Linked DNA regions of Homo sapiens: region 1 is linked to region 2. Evidence: fine-mapped expression QTL. A gene starts in region 2. The other region holds a variant in brackets. All regions are shown on one strand. Distances are from middle to middle.

Region 1 (4,403 bases), 23 kb after region 2:
CACAGCCAACATAATACTGAATGGGGAAAAATCAAAAAGCATTCCCTCTGAGAACTGGAACAAGATAAGGATGCCCACTCTCACCACTCCTCTTCAACATAGTAATGGAAGTCCTAGCCAGAGCAATCAGACAAGAGAAAGAAATAAAGGGCATCCAAATTGGTAAAGAGAAAGTCAAACTATCACTGTTTCCTGACGATATGATAATTTATCTCGAAAACCCTAAAGACTCCTCCAGAAAGCTCCTAGAACTGATAAAATAATTCAGCAAAGTTTCTGGATACAAGATTAATGTACACAAATCAGTAGCTCTTCTATATACCAACAGTGACCAAGCAGAGAATCAAATCAAGAACTCAACCCTTTTTACAATAGCTGCAAAAAATAAAATAAAATACTTAGGAATATACCTAACCAAGGAGGTGAAAGACCTCTACAAGGAAAACTACAAAACATTGCTGAAATAAATTGTAGATGACACAAACAAATGGAAACACATCCCATGCTTGTAAATGAATAGACTCAATATTGTAAAAATGACCATACTCCCAAAAGCAATCTACAAATTCAATGTAATCCCCATCAAAATACCACCATCATTCTTCACAGAATTAGAAAAACAATTCTAAAATTCATATGGAACCAAAAAAGAGCTTGCATAACCAAAGCAAGATTAAGCAAAAAGAACAAATCTGGAGGCATCATACTACCTGATTTCAAACTATACTATAAGGCCATAGTCACCAAAACAGCATGGTACTGGTATAAAAATAGGCACATAGACCAATGGAACAGAATAGAGAATCTGGAAATACACCCAAATACTTACAGCCAACTAATCTTTGACAAAGCAAACAAAAACATAAGGTGGGGAAAGGACTCTCTTTTCAACAAATAGTGCTGGGATAATTGGCTAGTCACATGTAGGAGAATGAAACTGGATCCTCATCCCTCACCTTATACAAAAATCAACTCAAGATGGATTAAGGACTTAAATCTAAGACCTGAAACTGTAAAAAATATAGAGGATAACCTTGGAAAAACCCTTCTAGACATTGGCTTAGGCAAGGATTTCATGACCAAGAACCCAAAAGCAAATGCAATAAAAAGAAATATAAATAGCTGGGACTTAATTAAACTGAAGAGCTTTTGCATGGCAAAAGGAACAGTCAGCAGAATAAACAGACAACCCACGGAATGGGAGAAAAATCTTCACTGTCTACGCATCTGACAAAGGACTAATATCCAGAATCTACAACAAAGTCAAACAAATTGGCAAGAAAAAAATATCCCATCAAAAAGTGGGCTAAGGACACGAATAGGCAATCTTCAAAAGAAGATATGCAAATGGCCAACAAACATATGAAAAGATGCTCAACATCACCAGTGATCTGGGAAATGCAAATCAAAACCACAATGCGATACCACCTTACTCCTGCAAGAATAGCCGTAATCAAAAAATTTAAAAAAGCAGATGTTGGCATGGATGCAGTAATCAGGGGACACTTACACACTGTTTGTGGGAATGTAAACTGTAACAGCCACTGTGGAAAACAGTGTGGAGATCCCCTAAAGAACTAAAAGTAGAACTACCATTTGATCCAGTAATCCCACTACTGGGTATATACCCAGAGGAAAAGAAGTCATTATATGAAAAAGATACTTGCACACACATGTTTATAGCAGCAATTTGCAATTGCAAAATC[G/A]TGGAACCAACCCAAATGCCCATCAATCAATAATGAGTGGATAAACTGTGAGATATATATATATATATATATATATATATATATATATATATATGATGGAATACTACTCAGCCATAAAAAGGAATGAATTAATGGCATTCCCAGCAACCTGGATGAGATTGGAGATTATTATTCTAAATGAAGTAACTCAGGAATGGAAAACCAAACATCGTTATGTTCTCACTGATATGTAGGAGCTAAGCTATGAGGACACAAAGGCATAAGAATGATACAATGGACTTTGGGGACTTGGGGGTAAGAGTGGGAGTGTGGGGGCGAGGGATAAAAGACTACAAATAGGGTGCAGTGTATACTACTCAGATGATGGGTGCACCAAAATCTCACAAATCACCATTAAAGAACTTACTCATATAAACTGCTGGGTGTGGTGGCTCACGCCTGTAATCTCAGCACTTTGGGAGGCTGAGGTGGATGAATCACCTGAGGTCAAGAGTTTGAGACCAGCCTAGCCAACGTGGTGAAACCCCATCTCTACTAAAAATATAAAAATTAGCCGGGCGTGGTGTCACATCCCTGTAATCCCAGCTACTTGGGAGGCTGAGGCAGGAGAATCGCTCGAACCCGGGAGGCAGAGGTTGCAGTGAGCTGAGATCACGCCATTGCACTCCAGCCTGAGCGACGAGAGCAAAACTCCGTGTCAAAAAACAAAAAACAAACAAACGAAAAAAAAAAACTCATGTAACCAAACACCACCTGTACCCCAGTAACCTATGGAAAAATAATAAAAATAAATAAATAAAAAACATTATTACCAGCACATAGGCAGTGATGATGACATTATAAAATTTGATCATCAACTATCAGGGCCACTGATTGACCCATTTCAGTTCAAATTAAAAGATTTAGGAAAGTTTCTACTATTCCAGCTCAAGCATCAAATAGTAAATGCAGTGTGTTAATACCTTTGTGGTTTGTCAAGATTAATGAATGTAGACAGTAAGGTAAAATGGCTGAGTAAGCTTTAGACTATAAATCTAAAGAGAGATTGAGCTCTCTTTTTACCAAGTCTTGTGGTGAATATTTAAAGTGAATTGCAAACTCAAAAGAGCTGCTCTAATTCTTCCAGGGTTTCTCCCACCTTTTTTCCCTTGATGGCAGAAGTAGATTAAACCCAGTTGATTAGAGTTAGCAGTTAACTAACTCTCTGCGGGATTGGATGCCACTGATCTGTCTAGTAAGGATTTAGCTTAATTAAGGTGTTTGATTTGCATTCTGCTGATGTAAGATAGAGTCTTGTGTCCTTATTTTTCAGGAATTAAGTATGGAGTACTTTCTTAGTCTTTTTTTTTTTTTGTAGAGACGAGGTCTCGCTATGTTGGCCAGGTTGGTCTTGAACTCCTGGCCTCTAGTAATGCCTTGAACTGTCTTGGTCTCTCAAAGTGCTAGGATTACAGGCATGAGTCACCATGCCCAGCCTTAGTGATCTGAAGGTTCTTGGTCTGTCTAAATTAAATTCCTAGTCCAGTGTTGAGAATATTGGTGCAAGTCAGAGGGAAAAAGGTTGATAGTATAACAAGTAATGATAGAAAGAATGTTTTGTATTTTTGAATTGTCTCTTTGTTTTCATGTTGTTGGTTGTTGGGAATATTGTTAATGATGCTCAACATCACTAACAATTGTATATAAAAATGTAAGTTGAATAATGCATGATAACTATAAATTTTGGTATAATAATGCTATTTTGGGGGTTAATTCCAGAATAATGATTAATTTGGGTAAAAATCCTGTAAGTGGTGATTGTAACCCTAAAGATAATAGGATTATAAGGATTGTGGAAGTTATTAGTGATAATTTATTTTATGTATGTGGAAGTGATAATGTTGTGATAGTTGTGTTTAAACTGAATATTATGAATACAGTAATTTTTAGTATAATGTAAATTCGTAGACAAGATTATTGTAATTGATGAATAGGTTAAGTTTTTTTGTCATTGTGTCTGATTTAGTCCTCAGCCTCCTACAAGAATTAATATTATAGCAATGATTGGTATTATGTTTAGGTCAATTGATGATACTTGGAGTAGAATTGAAATTGGTACCCGTTTTGGTCATGTTAATGGGATTATGCCTGATATTAGTGGATTTCCTTCTGTTATTTCTGGGACTCAAAAATGGAATGGGGAGAGTCCAAGTTTTATAACTAGTGCCACAGTAATTATTAGGGATGCTGTTGGGTTGGGGATTTTTATGATTGTTCATTACCCAGAGTATAATGTATTAATAATAATAGCAAGTTATTCAGAAGATTTGGCTAAGGTCATTGATGAAGGTAGCTATGCTAAACAACATTTTCAATGTACATGAAACAGCCTTATATCAGAAGAAGATGCCATCTAGGACTTTCATAGCCAGAGAGGAGAAGTCAATGCCTGGCTTCAAAGCTTCAAAGGACAGGCTGACTCTCTTGATAGGGCCCAATGCAGCAGGTAATTTTAAGGTGAGGCCCATGCATTTACCATTGTGAAAATCCTAGGGCCCTTAAGAACTCTCCTAACTCTACTCAGCCTGTGCTCTATAACTGGAACAACAAAGTCTAGGTGACAGCACATCTGTTTACAGAATGGTTTACTGAATATTTTAAGCACACTTTTGAGACCTTCTGCTCAGAAAAAAAGATTCCTTTTAAAATATTACTGCT
Region 2 (4,330 bases):
CTCTTGATGGGCACTGACCCCAACAACAGGCCTGGGCACAGGTCCAGCACTTAACTCAGAGGGATGCCGTGTGCTGCTGCATGGTCTGTTACCAACATCTCATAGAAGAGAGCAGAAACCACTTAGGAACACAGCTGATTTAGGAAGGTTTTTCTAAACACACATAGTTTAGGAAGGTTTTTCTCTTAATTAAGATTTATCTTTCTGATGGAACCAGATGACAGGGAGATAGATGCCTGCATGGTGAGCGTTTTCATATATTACCTCTTAATTCTCACAACAACCTGATGAGGAAGGTGTTATTATCCAACTTTAAAGTAATTTTCCAAAGTCATATAGCTCCTAAATCTAAAGATTTTGTTATTTTTTAAATACTAAAATTGTCCCATACCACCAATATGCACAATGTGCAGTGGATGACTATCCGCTCAGAAATGGCCAACAAATAGGTAACAAGTTTGTAATTCCAGATTAATCTCTGTCACCTCCAACTAGTGACTAGTCTTTTTATTTTCCAGTTTTTACAAAACTTTAATTTTTGAATTGATAGATTATATTTGTACATATTTATGGGGCACATGTGATATTCTGTTACATGCATAGAATGTACAATGATATTGTTACATGCATAGAATGTGTACTGATAAAGCATACATAGACGCACAGATAAGTGCATAAAATGTGTAATGACTAAAGTCAGGGTATTTAGGGTATTCCAAAGCCAAAATTGAGTGCTTACTCATTTGCCTCACTGCAATAGAGAGTCTAATGTCAACATTCTAAAAGTTAGGTGTACTATGAATACTACTTCATCTGAATGCACCAAAGGATAATCTCCGAAAATATTCCTTTACCTGGACAGGGTGGGGGAAGGAAGCGAGAGATGTGGAGAGAGACGGAGCGACGTCCTGGCCCTCTGTGACCTCCGTGCCAGGAAGAGGGACCCAGGATGTTTGAGAGTTTTGCTACCAGCCTTAAGCACCGAGAGAGGTGTCACTCAGTGCGCAGCTGCACCGGCTAAGTTTTTTAGACGCGTTGCCCTCGGCAGCGGGTTTGGACCCAAGGTCGCGTCGACACTGGCCTCAGCATCTGACCGCGGGCGGAGCCCAGGTGCGCGCGAGGCCCTGCCACCCTCCCTCGCCCGCGGGCGCTTCTCCCTTGCCGGAACCGCCCGGCCCCGCCCGAGGCCTGCCCCGGGAGCCCCGCGGCGAGTGTCGCCACGCTCACCTCCTCGCTGTGCGTGGACGGGCACTTCTTCCGCAGGCGGCCCCAGTTCAGCAGGTTCCCCGTCTGCAGGTGCAGGGTGCGGGCCCGCGCCAGGAGCGCCTTGGCCGCGCGGCTGTCGGTGCCCATGGCAGCGGCCGCCCAGGGGCCGCGCAGCGAAGGGGCTGCGGGCGGGCGGGCAGGCAGGCGGCCGCCCCACAGGACGCGGTGCCCGAGGCCCGAGAGAGACCCGAGAGGGAGCGCGAGGCTGCCGGCGCCGCGCGGCTGGAGCCTGGTCTGCGCTCGGGCCCGAGGGAGGCCGGACGGCGGCTGGGCGGCGGCGGGAAAGGAAGGCACCGGTGGCTGCGGCTCCGGCTCCGGCTACTGCGGCCGCAGCGGGAGAGCTGATTCCAAACTGAGGGAGCTGTTTCCTGGAAGACAATGACTAAGCAGAAATCGTAGCCGAGAAAGTGCTTCGTAACCGTTACTCATCCCGCGGCGGGGCAGGGGCGGGGCGCGAATGGGCTGCGGGACGCCGGCCCGCAAGTGACTGGCCCTTGGCCTGCGGCGGGCGTGGCGACGGGTGGTGCGCGGCGGGCGCGCGGGTCGAGAGAGCGTGGCGGCGCGGCCCGGAGCGCAGCGCGCGGCAGGGCTCCCCCTGGCGGTCAGAGGACAGCGCGAGGCAGACACCGCCTCCGCCTGGTGAGGTAGACACCGCCTCCGCCTGGTGAGGTCTCCCGGCGTTCAGGTCGCGGCTCCGCCCACGGCCGCCCCAGGGTGGGCTTCCTACACGTCTCTTTAAAGGGCAGCCTGAGCGGCCACCGGGACTCGGAAATGCTACGTAGTTTTCGTTCTCAGAAGCAGCTGTTTATGCGCAAGCGCCCCCTTCTTCTTTTCGCTTTGCTACCTTCAAGGACCTTCTCCCAAACTGCTAATTTTTCTTCATCCGTTAAAGGTCTATTGATTCACATTATTTGCTGGCAGTGTGTGAAGTCAACGAACAAGACTGAGTCTTTGCCCTTGAGACGCGTACACTCTACCCAGAGACAAGTTCTAAGCACAGGAAACAAGTAATTTTATAAGAACATCATAGGGCAGTTATTCTCCAGATGAATTCAGATTAAAGAGGACACTTGAGCCGGTGAGATCACAGAAAGCTTTTATCACCCACCCCTTTAGAGGTGGTCGAGATTATTTACCCCTATTAAATTTCACGTGTGGTGGTGGACTCGGTATAAACATCAAATTGAACATGTATTGAGCTTTCCTCAACAATCTTTCACATTCGTTGAGGTGAATCAGATTATTAAAGGCAAAATGAGATTCTCATTATAAGCGGGGACAATATAGCTATTGAAAAGAGAGATGAACCAGTTGGTAAAATGGTAAGAATTAGGGGAGGGATGGGAAAAAAGATCTTTCTAGGAAGTTAGAAATTGAGCCTGATGTTGAGTAAATATTTGTTGGCTGAATGAATGATGGTAAGAGTTCATTGAACGAGCTTGCGCTGCTTTTTTTTTTTTTTTTTGGATATTGATTTTTTATTATAGTGAAAGAGCTACCCACAAGCACCACCACTACTTAAACACATTTTGATGCACTGTAACATACAATTAACATTTGTTGTAAATAATTCCAACATATACAAAAATAGCAAGAATACTATAATGAAACCCGATATAACTATCTTCTGAACTCAAGATTGAATAAGATTTGTCTATACTTTTTGTTTTATAATACTTTAAGTTCTAGGGTACATGTGCACAATGTGCAGGTTTGTTACATATGTATACAAGTGCCATGTTGGTTTGCTGCACCCATTAATTCGTTATTTACATTAGGTATTTCTCCTAATGCTATCCCTCCGCCAACCCCCCACCCCATGACAGGCCCCAGTGTGTGATGTTTCCCACCCTGTGTCCAAGTGTTCTCATGGTTCAATTCCCACCTATGAGTGAGAACATGCAGCGTTTGGTTTTCTGTCCTTGCGACAATTTGCTCAGAATGATGGTTTCCAGCTTCATCCATTCCCTACAAAGGACATGAACTCATCCTTTTTGATGGCTGCATAGTATTCCATGGTGTGTATGTGCCACATTTTCTTAATCCAGTCTATCATTGATGGACATTTGGGTTGGTTCCAAGTCTTTGCTATTGTGAATAGTGCCAAAATAAACATACCTGTGCATGTGTCTTTATAGTAGCATGATTTATAATCCTTTGGGTATATACCCAGTAATGAGATCGCTAGGTCAAATGGTATTTCTAGTTCTAGGCCCTTGAGGAGTCACCACACTGTCTTCCACAATGTTGAACTAGTTTACACTACCACTGACAGTGTAAAAGTGTTCCTAGTTCTCCACATCCTCTCCAGCACCTGTTGTTTCCTGACTTTTTAATGATTGCCATTCTAACTGGTGTGAGATGGTATCTCATTATGGTTTTGATTTGCATTTCTCTGATGACCAGTGATGATAAGCATTTTTTCATGTGTCTGTTGGCTGCATAAATGTCTTCTTTTGAAAAGTGTCTGTTCATATACTTTGCCCACTTTTTGATGGGGTTGTTTGATTTTTTCTTGTAAATTTAAGTTCTTTGTAGATTCTGGATATTAGCCCTTTGTCAGATGGGTAGATTGCAAAAATTTTCTCCCATTCTGTAGGTTGCCTGTTCACTCTGATGGTAGTTTCTTTTGCTGTGCAGAAGCTCTTTAGTTTAATTAGATCCCATTTGTCTATTTTGGCTTTTGTTGCCATTGCTTTTGGTGTTTTAGTCATGAAGTCCTTGCCCATGCCTATGTCCTGAGTGGTATTTCCTAGGTTTTCTTCTAGGGTTTTTATGGTTTTAGGTATAACATTTAAGTCTTTAATCCATCTTGAATTAATTTTTGTATAAGGTGTAAGGAAGGGATCCAGTTTCAGCTTTCTACATATGGCTAGCCAATTTCCCCAGCACCATTTATTAAATAGGGAATCCTTTCCCCATTTCTTGTTTTTGTCAGGTTTGTCAAAGATCAGATGGTTGTAGATGTGTGGTGTTATTTCTGAGGCCTCTATTCTGTTCCATTGGTCTGTATCTCTCTTTTGTACCATGCTGTTTTGGTTACTGTAGCCTTGTAGTATGGTTT

The links. PIP is the estimated chance that this variant, and not a neighbour inherited with it, causes the effect.
Region 1: its variant is the best candidate, but not a certain one, in a credible set for the expression of GCLM in whole blood (TOPMed, PIP 0.52).

What each region holds. Positions count from the first base shown.
Region 1 is chr1:93,931,248-93,935,650 of GRCh38, forward strand. No RefSeq gene overlaps it. Among named protein-coding and RNA genes, the nearest start is that of GCLM, 24 kb to the left of the region's middle. The variant G/A (reference allele first, on the strand shown) is at 1,707.
Region 2 is chr1:93,907,811-93,912,140 of GRCh38, forward strand. GCLM (glutamate-cysteine ligase modifier subunit) reads right to left here and starts at 1,620. Exons shown (of 7, transcript NM_002061.4): 1 at 1,228-1,620. The coding sequence starts at 1,353. It overlaps LOC124904221 (a long non-coding RNA gene), which reads left to right and starts at 1,782. Exons shown (of 2, transcript XR_007066230.1): 1 at 1,782-2,344. RefSeq lists silencers at 1,034-1,083, 1,134-1,493, 1,704-1,943 and an enhancer at 1,984-2,143.